Linked DNA regions of Homo sapiens: region 2 is linked to region 1. Evidence: fine-mapped expression QTL. Tissue or cell type: whole blood. Region 1 holds a variant in brackets; the other region holds the start of a gene. All regions are shown on one strand. Distances are between the middles of the regions.

Evidence for each region. PIP is the estimated chance that this variant, and not a neighbour inherited with it, causes the effect.
Region 2: RBM28 starts here. The variant in region 1 is fine-mapped to the expression of RBM28 in whole blood (TOPMed, PIP above 0.99).

The regions. Positions count from the first base shown.
Region 1 is chr7:128,285,589-128,288,348 of GRCh38, forward strand. No RefSeq gene overlaps it. Among named protein-coding and RNA genes, the nearest start is that of LEP, 46 kb to the left of the region's middle. The variant G/A (reference allele first, on the strand shown) is at 1,642.
Region 2 is chr7:128,342,699-128,345,305 of GRCh38, forward strand. It overlaps RBM28 (RNA binding motif protein 28), which reads right to left and starts at 1,210. Exons shown (of 19, transcript NM_018077.3): 1 at 978-1,210. The coding sequence starts at 1,095. It also overlaps the pseudogene RNU7-27P. RefSeq lists an enhancer at 1,151-1,350.

The DNA.
Region 1 (2,760 bases):
TTTGAGATGGCTGGTGTGGAAACCATGGCACCTGTCCAGGGCAAGAAGATTGAGAATCTGGGCAAATGTGCTGGCAACAGGCAGGTCGAGGTGGGGCGGTCTCAGGAATTATTTAGGAGTAACATTTTACACCCTCCCCAAGAATCGGCAGAGCTTGGCCAGTGACATGGCATAGAGGTGAGAGCGGAGAAGTCTCCTACAACCGAAGTGTCTAGTGTGGATGATTGTGGATCATGGTGCCACAAACTGGGACAGATGATGTAGGAAAAAGAGTGAGCCAGAAAGTGTTTCATTTCCCTGTATTCCTGCATTAAAAACCTCCCTAAAATGTGGCCTTAAATAACAATTCATTATTTCTCATGATTGTGTGGGCCAAGAAATGGTCAGGGCTCAGCAGGGCAGTTTTGCTCCACACAACTTTACCTGGGGCCATTCTCTTGACTGTGCCCAGCCAATGGCTGGTCTGGAAGGTCCATGTGTCCCTCACATGCTCAGCACCTTGGTGCTCCTCCACATGGCCCCTCTCTCTCCAAGTGGCTAGCTTGGGCTTCCTCACAGCATGGTGGTCTTAGGATAGCTGAACTTCTTCAATGGGGTGGCCTCCCAGAGGGTGTATTCTAAGAATCAAAGGCAGATGCTCTATATCTTCCAAGTCCCAATCTCAGAAATGACACAAAGTCACTCTGCCACGTTCTATTGGGTACAAGAAGTCACTGATCCAGTCCATATTTAAGAAAAGGAGAAACAGCCTCCAACTCTGAATGGAAGGAGTAGCAAAGAACGTGTGGCCATTTTAACCCACCACAGTGGGTGCAGTGAATGCTGTGAGGTGCCACCCAGGTGCCCCTTCAGAATGGAGGCATTTGGTTCCCTGAGGGCGTATTGGCTGCTCATACCTGGGTCCCTCTCCAGGAACTGTCCTCCCCTAAAGGCACATCCCCTCTCCAAGGAGAGTCGCCATCCAGTGACTGGTGGGTGCGGGCATACCAGAGCCCAGCTCCCAGAGTCTCTCTGGAGCAATTCTGAAGGATCATCTCAGCTCTAGAGCTGTGGGACCAGCTGATGGCTCCGTGTGTCGAAGTTCAAGTTCTCCCTCTGCCTGGTCTGCTTTCCTCACTCCCTTCGGATGCTTCTCCCGAGTCCTCCCCAGTCATCTCCTGCACTTAAATGCACCTCACAGCATTTGCCAAGAACCTGCCCAAGGTTGAGGAACCTGACCTCCACCAAGAGGCTGAGCTCTGACTGGGAGTGTAGTGGTTGGACAGCCTCTGCAACAGTCAGAGCCTCCACAGTGGGCAGGGTTTGGGAGGCTGGAGGCTGGAGTCTGAGGGAGACATCTGGGCCTGTGATGGAGTCAGCAGAGTAAGGGGATCGGGAGGCTGAGGTGAAAACCACGTGAACATTTACTCAAACAATCTGCTAATGGTTTTTTTTTTGTTTGGTTGGTTTTTTTGTTTGTTTGTTTTTTGAGACAGAGTCTCACTTTGTTGCCCAGGCTGGAGTGCAGTGGTGTCATCTCGGCTCACTGCAGCCTCCGCCTCCTGGGTTCAAGCAATTCTCCTGCCTCAGCCTTCCAAGTAGCTGGGGTTACAGGTTCCCACTGCCACACCCAGCTTATTTTTGTATTTTTAGTAGAGACAG[G/A]GTTTCACCATGTTGGCCAGGCTGGTCTCAAACTCCTGACCTCAAGTGATCCTCCCACTTTGGCCTCCCAAAGTGCTGGGAATACAGATGTGAGCCATGCACCCAGCCGAAATCCGCTAATGTTAATCATCCGATTGTTTCCAATTTTCATTATTATAAACGTTAATACATGGCCTGATACCTAAATTCTTTCATTCACAGTTCTGATCATTTTTTTTTCTCATATTTTTAGAGACTATGTCTCACTAGGTCTTGCTAGGCTGGTCTTGAGCTCCTAGACTCAAGCAATCCTCCTGCCTAAGCCTCCTGAGTAGCTGGAATTACAGGCGTGCACCACTGCACCTGGCTCTGATCCCTTTTTTTAGTGAAAGATTTTGAGTGAAATGATTCATCGCTTGAGTGAAATAATGAATTAAAGAATATGAGCATTCTTGAGGCTACCAGGATTTTCCAAGGCCCCTTTGCACACCGCATTTACACGGCATTCTCCTTCAGCCAAATTCCCTAAATTCACAAGAGGCCTGATTTAGGGAAGGTCACTGATTCAGCTGGAGAGTTAATTATTCATTTGAATTGGTTTATGCAAAAAGCTCCAGAGAGCCCACAAGAATAAATTGAAAAGCTATTAGAACAGGCAAATTTAATAAAGTGGCTGGATGCAAAATTCAATAGCTTCCTCATCAACTAGCAATAACCAATTAGAAGATATAATGGGGGTGGGTGGATGGGGAAGCAGAGATAGCAACAATAACAAAAACACCTCAAATCTACTGCACCAGTGTTAGAAATGGAAACTATCTCTTATAACTTTGTAGACTTTTTTAGAAACCCATGAAATAATTAATTCAATGGGAAATCATGCCATGTTCCCAAATGGAAAGGCTGCATGTGCTGCAGAGTTGACCTGTAGGTTGAACACAATCCAATTAAAAGTCCAAGGAGATTTGCTGCTTTGTTGTTGTTAAGCATGCCACAGTTCTTCTAAAGTTTACTCAGAAGAAATACATAGGCAAGAATAGCTGAGAAAAAAAATGTGAAGATGAATAAGGAGGAATTTTGCCTTATCAGATATTAAATATACAATAAAGCTAAAATAATGAAAATAGTGTAGCCATGATG
Region 2 (2,607 bases), 57 kb after region 1:
TTACATGATCTGCTACTCTAGATCTCATCTCCTAATTCTCTTCCCTTTACTCACTTCAATCCAGTCACCCTGTCCTCCTTACTACTCCTCCAATATACCAAAAACACCTCTGTTTCAGTACCTTTGAGCTTGCTGTTTTCTCTTCCTGAATTGTTCTTCCTCCGGAGAGGCATGTGTTCACTCTCTCACCTCAGTCCGTCCTTCTCTGGCCACCCTATCTATATTGCCACTCTTCACCCCCTCTCCCCACTATACACATGCACATAGACTTCCTAACCCCTTTCCCTGGCTTATTTTTCTCCTTAGCATTTGACATCATTTTCACGGTTGGCTTGTTTATTGGCTCGTTTATTGGCTCTCTTCCCCACCTTGAAGACATAAAATCAAAGATTTTTTTGGTTTGGTGTTGTGCACTGCTGCATCCCCAGGACCTACAACACTTCCTGGCACACAGTAGGTATTAAGTATTTGCTGAATAAATGAATGAACAAGTGGATAGCATCCTGGCTAAGATGTCCAGGTCTGAGGATCAAATCGGGGGTCCACTACTTAACAGCCGTACAAACTTAAAGTTACTAAATTCCCCTAAATCCCGGATTCCTGTCTGTAAAATGACATTAAGACTCTCCATCCGGTAAGATTGCTGAGAAAATTAAATGAGATAACCTGTATCAAACTGATCACTGTACCTGCCAATCAGGTGACTCTCAATAAGTCTTACTGATGCTCTAGTTAACTATTTTCATTTTTAGCGCGCATAATCAACAGAAAGCGCTATAGAAACGTAAGGGAATGCTTTGCCCTTCATAAACTGACTCCTATGAACGCATCTAAAGCAGAATCAGTTTGGAAAAGAAACTCAGTTCCCTGTCCCTTCTCTTCGGGGAGGGTAAAGAATGATACGGCTCCCTGAAGTTTGGGAAGGTGCCCTCGATCGCAGGAAACCCCAGCCCTATCCTCGACCGCCCCGCCCCTACCTTTTTCAGTCACCACGAAGCACTGCTTCACCGGCCCCACCTGACTGAACAGTTCCTCCAGCTGCTCACTGCGGGCCGAGGGCGGGAGGCGGCCCACAAATAAGGTCAGGCCGGCCATGAGACCGGGAAACCCAAAGCGCGTGAGGACGCGAGCAAACTAGGCCGGCGCACGCGAGCCGAAACGCTGGCTTTGGTAGGACAACCAAGCTCACACGCCGAGAGATTCCGGAAGTGCTCGTTGCCCAAAAGAGACCGGAGGAAAACATGGTCGGGAGGGGGATAAAAGGTTCCGGAATGAAAAAATAATGGCGCCCCGGGGCGTAGCTTCTGGAGCGGGGCTCCGCCCCCTGCCCTAGCATCGCCCTCGCCACTTTTGTGTAAACTTGGCATCAATAATTTCTACCCTAGTGTTACAGCTTTTTTAGAATTTGCCTAGCAGGCTTTCTGGTTTTTGCCGGAAGGCCTCCAAAAAGTAATTTTTTTTCTTAATATACAAAATAAAAATAAATAATTTCTACCCTGTTTAAAAATCTCACCTCCAGATCCTCCCCAAAGTTAGCAGGACAGGCAGAAGAAGTCGTTTTTGCCCCGGGCGTAACTCAGGATCTGATATACTGTGGGTGTTTGATATTTTCTGAAGTGCCTCCACAAATTCCCAGATTACGTGCATAAAACACAACCGGAACACTAACACGTAGACATAGATATATCATATACATCATTCGGACGATTCTCATTTTCGGAGAACACCAGCTGTCTGTCACCTCAGCCTCACAAACAAATTGTAGCTACTAAAATACACATAGACACAGATAGTACACAATTATTATTTCAATAAATATATACTGAGCTCTAACTATGAGCCAAGCATTAGGGATAAAACTGGTGAGCAAAGAAATGACAGGGTCCCTGCCCTCATAGAGATTACAGTCTAATGGTGGAAACAGATTTTTTTTTTTGACAGGGCCTCACTTTATCAACCAGGCCGGAGTGCACTGGCACGATCTCGGCTTACTGCAGCCTCGACCTCCCAGGTTCAAGCAGTCCTCCTGCCTCAGCCTCCTGAGTAGCTGGAACTACAGGTGCACCACCACACCCGGCTAATTTTTGTATTTTTTGCAGAGACAGGGTTTCACCATGTTGCCCAGGCTGGTCTCAAACTCCTGAGCTCAATTAGCCCCCCTTAGCCTCCTAAAGTGCTAGGATTATAGGTGTGAACCACCACACCTGGCTGGGAAGACTATTAGTCCAAAAATTCTTACAAATAAATCACAGCACACACACTGCAGGACCACATCAAACACACTCAAAGCAAACATAACATCCAACTTATACACAGAGACCTAGAACCCATGTCCTCCTAGAAACAGAAGATCTTTGTCTCAAGTCAGCTCATCAGACAGACCCAAAGCTGAGAGCTCTTAATTGGCTAGGAAATCTGGGTGCTCCTGGTTCTGGAACACAGAGAGTGTTTGCCATGCCACTGGGCTCAGGACCTGAATAGGTGCAAGAGAGCTACACCTTGCAGAACAACTAGCTCAAAAAAAAGTACCCAAGGCCATTTTTTAAATAATTTTTTTTTTAGCAGACTCTTGCTCTGTCACCCAACTTGGGGTGCAGTGGCACCATC